Homo sapiens: one gene and its partner. The protein of the gene in region 2 purifies or fractionates together with the protein of the main gene of each other region. This does not show direct contact. Each region holds a gene or a part of one and is shown on either strand. Other genes may lie near its edges.

The links. The genes of interacting proteins can lie anywhere in the genome.
Region 1: the proteins of TMEM243 (region 2) and CD47 purify together in Homo sapiens (affinity purification with mass spectrometry; one large-scale study listed by BioGRID and IntAct). This does not show direct contact.

The regions. Positions count from the first base shown.
Region 1 is NC_000003.12:108,077,519-108,082,026, forward strand, and holds part of CD47 (leukocyte surface antigen CD47 isoform 1 precursor), read right to left. Parts: intron 2,827-4,508; coding exon 2,473-2,826; intron 1-2,472. UniProt on the Homo sapiens protein: Adhesive protein that mediates cell-to-cell interactions. Acts as a receptor for thrombospondin THBS1 and as modulator of integrin signaling through the activation of heterotrimeric G proteins.
Region 2 is NC_000007.14:87,195,733-87,201,196, forward strand, and holds the end of TMEM243 (transmembrane protein 243), read right to left. Parts: exon of another isoform or gene 3,326-5,464; coding exon 3,275-3,325; exon of another isoform or gene 2,314-3,274; coding exon 2,209-2,313; coding exon of another isoform or gene 2,083-2,208; exon of another isoform or gene 1,950-2,082; intron 1,027-1,949; coding exon 904-1,026; 3' UTR 428-903; downstream 1-427.

The DNA of each region.
Region 1 (4,508 bases), on a different chromosome or scaffold from region 2:
TACAGCCCAGTAACCATACTTCTGAGCATTTATCCCAGAGAAATGAAAACTGTGTCTACACAAGAACCTGTACACAATTGTTCAGAGCAGTTTCATTTGTAACAGCCCAAACTTGGAAACAACCAAAATGTCCTACTATAGGTAAGTGGTTAAACAAACTGTGATATATTCATACTATGGACTACTACTCAGCAAAAAAAAAAGTAAGGAAAAAAGAACTATTGATAGATGCAAAAACTTGGATAGATCTCAAGGGCATTGTGCTTAGTGAAAAAGCCCTTCTCAAAAGGTCACATCTTGTATCATTCCATTTATATAGCATTGTTGAAATGACAAAATTATAGATATGGAGGACAAATTGGTGCTTGCCAGGTTAGGGACAGTGGGAGGTGGCGGTATGACTAGTAAGAATAAGCATGAGGGAGATGTTTGTTATGATGGATAGGTCTATGTCCTGATTGTGTAGGTAGTTACGCAAATAAACACGTGATAAAATGAGAGCGAACCATTAACACACACTGCACCATTGTGAACTTCCTGATTTTCATATTGTGTCACATAAGAGGAAACCATTGGGGGGACTGGGTGAAGGGCACATGGAAGCTCTCTATCTTTGAATCGTCCTGTAAATCAATAATTATTTCAAAAAATTAAAATGGATGCAAAGCCAAATGTCTCAAACCTCTGGTAGAATTTTCTACATTCTCTATAATAAAACAATACTTTCTCCTTTTAATGGCTCCCAAAATAAGTCTAGTTTTTATTTTTATAGGGTATTTTGCAAACAAAGATAAAACAGTCTTTCAATCACACGCAAAATAATAAACTGTTTTTATCTCAGATCCTGGCATTCCTTTCTCTTCCATCTTCATTTCATCTTCTGGCCTTTCAAATCTCATATTTTGAGTTTTCCAGTTTACCTCTCAGTGACCTGCATTACCCCCCAAAAGTTACTGTTCCCCCATATCTTATTCTTTCATTTCCACAAAATTGTACATTACCTCAGAAAAATTTCAACTAGGTATTAGATGATCTAATACCAGTTAGTTGCAGTGGATATGACTGACTGATTACACCCTTCATTAAAGGTATACTTAACAACAACAAAAAAAGCTCCTTTGCCCAAATTAATATCAATAGTAAAAGCTACAATGTAAGAGAGATTTCTGAGCAGAAAGACCTTTCAAATTCTCCTTGCCTACTCGGAGCCATCCCTTGCCCATTCCTCACTGCACACAAATCCCTCTCACAATGCTCTAGGCTAACTTCAACAACTTGATACCTTACTTCATAAAATAAACATCCCAGGAAAACAACTAACATTTACAACACACTTTGGTTTATGCTCATTAGACTGTAGAATACATAAAAGCAAGTATCTATTGTCATCTCCATTTCGGACATGAGGTAACTTGGACTCGGTTAAGCACCTTCTCAAGATCACACAGGTGAATAGTAAGTTGCTGAACAGGGGCTGTAACTCAGACCTCCTGATTCTCAATCCTAAGTAATGTGCAAACATTTCATCAAACCAAACACCCCATTCCTAATCTGGTAGTAGATTATTTTATAAAAGCTAGGCAAATAGTTGATCCAACTGAACAGAACTGAACCTATCTAGAGTTAAGGTTCTCAAAATGTGGTTAAGCCATGATCGGTAATATGACAGGTAATTCTAAATAGAGATTTCAAAACAGAAAGAACATACTCATATGGGGTTGAAGAACTCAGCTAGCACAGCAGGAAACAGCAAGGAGAGGAGACTATTTACTTCAGCTAATTTTACTACCTTCTACACCTCAGCAACCCAAGTTTGTGATAAAAAGGGCAGAATCATGGTGCTATCATCAAGTCTGAATTTGAATAAATGAATTTGAATCTCTAGTTCTCTCATATTTTGGCCAACAAAAAGAAGACCAAAGTAAGGCTAAGCACAGAAAATCTGAAGAAATCATCCATGATAACGTGATTTAATCTCCTGACTCTCCTCTATTCTCTCCAGAGGGAGCATGGCTGGGACTTGTCATCCCTTGGTCAAAGTGTAAGGTTAAAAAAAAAAAAAAAAAAAAAAAAAAAACACAAAAAACAGAAGGCTGAATAATTGGAAAGAGACTTGAAAATTAGTCACAGGAAAGAAAGCACTTGGATGGCAGCAAACAGAAATGAAGAGTACATTACCCCAGGACCAATCAGCCAAATAAAATGGTCCTTAGACCAAAAGTTTGAGAACCACACAATATACAAATTAACAAGTAATACAAATTAAATAGTAAATGTGTTTTACCATGAAGAGTAGATTAACAAATAGGATAGAAATCACAATCTTAAACTTGCTAAACATTACATCAACATTTATTAATAACAGCCTGCTTTTTGATTCAAAGGAGTACCTATCCCCATTTGGCCTCCTCTCGAAAGAGGATCAGGTTGCACCAGGACAAATAAAAAAAGAAGCTTTCATAGAAGTCTTACCAACACGATATTTTAGCTCGATGATCGTTTCACCTTCTCTGGTTAATTCTGTTACTTCACAAGTGTAGTTTCCTGTGTGTGAGACAGCATCACTCTTATCCATCTTCAAAGAGGCATCTCCTTTTAGTAATTGTGAGACTTCAATTTTTGCACTACTAAAGTCAGTGGGGACAGTGGACTTGTTTAGAGCTCCATCAAAGGTGTAAATATCTCTTCCTTTAAATTTCCACTTTACGTATACTTCAGTAGTGTTTTGTGCCTCCATATTAGTAACAAAGCATGGAATGACGACAGTGTCATTACAAAACGTGAATTCTACAGATTTTGTTTTATTAAATAGTAGCTGAGCTGATCCTGGAAAGGAAAAAGAAAAATGTTTCATTAATTATAGAAGTCTGTACTGTAAGATCTTAGGCATGTTACAAATCCTTAAGATAAACAGCAACATTTCCATTGTTCACTTAAGTAAACAGTATAGCAATGAAGAAGACCTATTAGGTGAAATATGCAAACAAATTATATTTTAATATTAACTTGCACAGCTGGAAGGCATCATTATGACTTTTCTTTATTCATTCTCAATAATACAAAGTATACATTACATGCATCTTGGGAATAAATTCAGCAACTATGTTGGAACATGCAGGTGTAGTATCTGGCTTTGGAAGCTTTGAAGTAATCATTACTGCCTACTGATATATGTAGAAAAATATTGTCCTTATCAAGGTAAAATTTTGAACAGAAAACCAAACCAAATATTTTATTCAGTCTCAACTTCAACACACTGCTAAATAGAACTTGCTGAACTGATATGAAATTTATCTTTATCCTTATGCTGCATTTCCAAAAAAAGTGGCAGGTTCTACTGTACTTTAATATACAAAGTAAATAGGATGAATCAAATCATATCTTTCCACTAGGATGGAAAATCTTAAAATACTAATGAGGAAAAAAAAAACATTATCTGTGGCTACTTTCCCATAGCAAAATATAGGCAGCAATAGACATTTTGTATGGGAGTCTTGAATGACATTTTCCCACCCCCACATTTCATTGACACTACAGAACAACAGTCTCCAAATGTATATTATGGGTATTCTTCCTCCAAGAAACCACAAAACGGTGAAAAAGCTAAGTAAGATGCAAGTTGAAACCAAGAGCAGTTACTGCTAATAAGCATCCTATCTACGCTTCTCAATAGGATAAACTACCAGTTGTTGCCTTATAGAAGAGGCACTGGGTAAATAAATGTAATCACTCATTGTTCAACTAAAATGTACAAGAATGTGTAGGAATTGTAGTTGTCTTCCATATTCTTCAGCCACTCAGCAACTCTTTTACCTAAGTAGCTACTTGGCCTTCCCCTCAAAACATAAACAAAAACAAAACACAAATTACTAACAAATATAAATAAAATATCAACTTTGTTAATAGTTCACACTTAAGATTTACTTCTACATAAACTGGAATAAAAATCAGAGGCATAGAATGTTTCTATTGTAAGAACACTATGTTTACTCAATAAATACCCCATGAATTGAATGCAAGGATGCATACTGGAATATAGGTACTGGACAATGTTCAAAACACCTGAGTAAAAATACTATTTCTGCCCCTTTTTAATATGCTGCCTTAAGCAACTCACTTTTCTATGCCTTGGTTTACTCTCTAAAATAGGAGGATCTCTTAAGTAGGAGGATCAAAAACAAACACCGGGCTACTTCACAGAACTGTGTTGAGCATTAACATGGAAAACATAGCGGCAAGTGCTCTCTAAACAATACTATGCTGTAAAAATGTAGGGTGATACTATAAAAACTAGATAATCTGGCATTTTAATGTAATGATATGGGCCCTCTTTGACTAGTCCAAATTGTTATATTTCTGGGAAATTGCAGTCTGAACCTATATTGTGGGCATCCACAGCTCACCTCTTCCCAGTTTTCTACATTTCTAGCCACCCAAATACTAGGAAGCCCAAGGCAAAACCTGGACTTCCGTTGCATTCTTTAAAACTTTGGAATTGTGAATTATTT
Region 2 (5,464 bases):
AATTCACTACAGGTTTTTTGTTACTTTTAAAGGGAATATGGATAAGCATAGTAACAAAACCCACCAGAATCTAAGCAGTTTTCACCCCCTCAGAAACCACTGTCATTAGTTTACAAAGTTAGCACTTTGAAGTAAAACTAAATGAGGAAGGAAGTAATGTTACCTATCCTTGATACCATGACCATTTATTAGATGTTTTGCTATATAAATTACCGAGAGAATAGTTTGTCATCCACTTAGTGTGTTAGCTGGTGGGGTACAATATAACCTCTCATCTCAGGCTATTTTAAAAAAACAATATTTGCTTCTATAACAAAAGGAAACAAATCTAAGAATCATTCCTGTACTACAGAAGGGTTAAGGCAAAGGTAGCCTTTTGGGCTTTTTAATGAATATGACCCCTATAGAAAAGTCAAGAAAAAAAAACCCTTGTATAAATTATTTTATTTATTATTGTAATTAGATCTTCACAAAGTTGTCTTTTCACTGTGTTTTGTCAACGTGAAATTAAATTGTAGTTATAAGCAAAAGTTGGTTGCCTAGGGAACAATTGTATATTCAGTTTAACAGAAATAAAAGAATATTTGTCTTAAGATGCAAGATTTGTTTTTACATAGCCTTTTGCCATACAATTATAAAAATTTCATTTCAAAAGTGAAATTTTTTTGTGCTGTTTTAGCTTTAAGGGTTGGAATGTTTAGGTGCAACATCAGCTCCTTAAAGAAAAAGCAAAGTGATCTAGGATATGTCTCCCTTGCAAGAGGGAATTAACATTTACAATTAACATGAAAATCATGTATCAGACTTCTGCAGGAGATTCTTCAGCATACCTTATCCAAAAATTACTCACTGTCCTAATGTATCATTTTGAAGAGTCCTGGTAAGTACTTCTCCTTGGCAGCCTCACCTTCCCACATCATGGAAGTACAGGTTTGCACATATACACAACATGATGATAGAAAATATGATATAGTAAATTAGCTTTCTAAATTTCGGTTCTAAGTCTCCTTGTCGATACCAGTAGATCTAAAAGAAGAATTAAAGTTTATAAATTAAAATTTGAAATATAACATTTTCTCTACCAATTTCAAATTTCATTAGTATTTGTTTATTCCCCTAAATGAGACAGACATTCTCCATATTCTGAGGTCTCTACATTCCTGAGATCAGTACAGCCAGAATTTAATTCTTACTCTGAGTTTCCACATCCAAGATCATACTTATTCCTACTTTCTCAGTTTACTTTCCTCTATATTCACACCTGTATACTCCACCAGTCATCTGGCAAGCTATCCAAGAACATATACCTGGGCATACTACTTAACAGGAAAGGAAGACAACATTTAGACTCATGATTCATACAGTTGGTTCAGACCGTAAAATAGGGCTTCCATAATATATTTGGATTAAACTAGTTCATTGTCTGTTAGTCACTTTAGGCTTCAAGCTAGGGGAACAGGAAAGCTCCCAAAGTGGGATGGGCTAGTTCTTCTTCGGGTCATGGGAGTATATAGCAGGATCAGTGAATGAGAACACTTGGAGGTGTCTCCTGGTTTAATTAATTTTAACTCAGATAAGCAAATTACTATTGTTTTTTCTTTTGATTCTGCCTCTAAAGGAACATGAAACAATGTAGCCAACTAATGAATGAACACTGAGGAGCCACCACCATCTTTGTTTCTTCACCATAAAAGAAACATTTGCAGTAAATCAAACATTTTTACAACAACTGCAGCTTTAGATTTCCCAGGAGGTTTTGGTGTTAATACCTCCATTTTGGGAAACAAACATGTAGATTAAACTAATTTTGTAATAATTAGAATTAAATCCAGAGTGCTCTATCTCTTCCCTTAGCAGTAACTGGCATTTCCCAAAGACTGTTGGCCCTTACGTAGTCCTTGAGTGAAGATGAATTAAGTAAATTAAAATCTTTGGCCACCTACGTCTTTCCACTAATTTTTTTTTTTTTTTTTTTTTTTTTTTTAAGCTATCAAGGGAGTGGAATTTCTCTTTGGGGTTACAACTTTGGGATTTAGGAGAAAAGGAGAAGACTCAGATTTTATTGAGAATTCTAACATACTTTTAGGGGGAGGATGAGGATATAATTAAGAGATACCCTTTTGTATAGACCCAAGGCTGAAAATTTTTGTCCTGTGCATTGCAACTTAAACCCTCAAGAACACTGTTTAAATTCTCAACAGTACTTACAAGTATGCAGGCAGTAATACTACTCAAAGAGATGCAGACAGCAAAGAATATATTCAACGGTTTTGGAGGTAGTTGAGGGAAAACAAAAGCACTTATCAGCGTTACCTGTATGAAGAGAAATTATGTAAGGCCTTAACAGTAATTCCAAGACTTGGTAATTACCAACTGGAGTCTAGGCAACAGTACTACAAAATGCTTCATGTTATAAAATTACATCTGCCACCAAGTTTGCTTTCTAGAATGTTAATACAGTAATTATAAATATGTTCGAGTTATTTTAGTACTTCTTTTCTAAACTTTCCCTTACTTATGAAAGGAGAGAAAACATCAGTAATACTAGCTGATGCCAAAATAACTTCATTAACTAAACCTCACTCCCAGGATTAATGATTCTGCTGGTAAAAGTTCTAGCCATTTTGTTATTTTAAATATTTCTAGCAAAATGAATATAATCAAAGCTGGTTTTGCTATAACATTATGAAACACACTGAAAGACTTCTAATGTTGTATAGTTCTGTTTCTAACAGATGCAGCATTATATGCAATCTTTTCATTAAGAAGCCATGGAAAAAAATTCTCTTAAATTTAATGTGCCAGAAAAATGTCAAACTATGGAAAATACAGCTTTTAAAAATTTTATTGTAATAGCTCCCAGATGTATACTGTATACAGGATGTATACAGTACAACTACTATACACTGTGACCAAATCTTTTAAAACTTGACCAAAGGGTAATGGATATGTTCTTCAGGAACAAAATAGAAATGGGGAATTATGGTAGATGACAGAAGGAAGTGGCTACTAGCCACTGACATTTTTACAAATTTACTAGGCAAAACATGGTAAACTCAATTATCTTAAAACGAAGTTGTCTGACTTGTACCATTTCACATATTCAACCTGGGGGTGGGGCAGAATTAAATTAGCTACTCCAATTAGCAACTGCAATTTTGTGGTAATAAAATTAAAAGCACTTATTTAGCTTTTTTTGGAAAGTTAACCATAATTGATAAAGTTTTCAAAACTGGCTAAGAGCCTGGGTGAGGCACAAAATGAGGATACTTACTAGAATCAATAAGGATGTTAAGCTGCCAACAACTAAATTGATGATTCGATCCTGAAAGAGAAAAGAATTTTTAAGCCATATGACTTGGATCCATGTTACCTTCAGTATAGTACAATGCAAGGCATTTGGATGGTTTACTATAAAGAAACCCAAGATCCAGTCCTCTGAGCTTTACACATAAAACTACCAGACAAAGCAAAGTGTACTGAACCATAAGAGTGGAAAATGTACTTTGGGAAAATGGCCAACTGGGGAAGGTTTCTTGAAGGGACAGAACATTTATACTAGAGTCTTGATTGGGTAGTATCAAATGGGTAAGGGAGGCTTACAAATAATGCATGTGCTGCTGAGGATAGCATAAGCCAAAGGAGAAGGACAGGCACTGCAGGAATGGCCAGGCCAGAGCATTGGTTAAAGGTATCAGGAACCGGACTAGATGTAGAGTACCATGATGTGTCTGGAACTATATTTGTAATACAGCTTAGGTATCCTTGTCTAGTCTAAAAATAGATGCTACTGTTAAAAGGGATGGGTCCTAGAGTGCCAAGGCTTGGCACTTGCAATCTTAAGAGACCATCCAGTCCAGTAGTTTTTCCAAGTTATTTAATAGTGAAGGGCTTTAGTATATAAACAAAATATTGGTTGAATGAAGAACCTACCTACTGAGCTTTCTTGTCATTCCCATCCCACCCCAACCAACAAAGAATGTTTGAAAAACTGATCCAATCCTAATTTTACAGGTTAAACTAAATTTAGGCCCAGTGTGGTTAAATTATTTTCTAAGAGTCATAACAAGTTAGAAGCAATTTTGAAACCAGAGATTCCTAAATCCAGGTCACTGGTTAGAAGTAGTTTCAGGTACTACTAAAAAGGTAAAGTATGATAGTGACATGCAGTCTTATTTCTGAGAAGTCAAAGCTGAGTCTTTAACGAATCAGTCGTCTTAAATGTTGTTTTGATAATGGTCTGAGCAGAGAATGGCAGGATATGGAACATGCCGCCAATAAACAAAACCTCAGAGATGGGAAGGACACAGGAACAATCACAGAGCAGCAACCGAATTCTCATTTCCAAGTAGTCGCCTTTTAAGGATAAGAACCCACAGAAGTTAAGAGTCAGGCAAAATTGGGAGGGAAAGAGTAAGAAAGCCAAGTATTGGATGTGTGTGATCTAACCAAGGACAAATCACAACTCTCCAGACCAAGGCCACTGCAACTGAAAGGTTACAGAACAAAAGATACTGGACTCCAGCCACACCCTAACTCCAGAGGACTCAGAAGAGATCTTACCACGACCTCAGCTAGAGAAGCCTACACAGCACACAGGAGCCTGAACTTAGGACCACTTTGTTAGGAAAGGGACCCAGGGACAAGTCACCACTCACTTTAACTTCTTCCCACATGGGACAACATAAAATGTGTAGAGAGACAAAATCCATGGGAGCCCCACTATTTTTGAGAAGCAAGAATATCTGCTGCTCTCTGAGCGCCAGGGATTTCCAAAATGAAGCACTGCATACCTCATAACAGCTCCCACCAATAGAAGTCAAGCCAATATATCACTAATTGCCAAATGACACACAGCAAGTTGCCTACCAGGATCAAAGTAGGAGAAAAATAATGGTAAAAGGATATTAACTATGCCAAGCACATTCACCAATCCTCTCTTTAAAAATTCTAGGATGAAATGGTAATATGACTGTTTCACAGGTAGCAAAACAGGCTCAGGGAAACTGAGAACTTTCCCAAGATCTCAATACCATTAAGTGATAAAGACAAGATTCAGTGCCAGGCCTCCTTTCCCTATTTATGCTTCTCACCCAAAGAACAACCTAGAGTGCTAGTGCTGGTCTAGACAAAGATGTCAAGTGGCAGATGACACCTCAAAAAGCCTATTAGCAAAGTACTACACTGTGCTTACCTTTCAAGAATGATTTCCTCATGGGTGACTTTGTTCCACATTTTTGGATTTCTCCATATAACTGATTTTAATCATCCTGATGAAAATATATCTAAACTTTAATGAATACTTTCCTGCCTACCTTTTAGATAGTCACTGAACAGAATTCCAACAGATTTTCATGAATATCAGTTATTGTTATAATGTAGTGGTCCCCTCTGGGATTCCCAAGATGGGATGAACTATTTCGGACATGGCAGAAGTGTTTCTCAGAATATTTTCTTTCTCCAA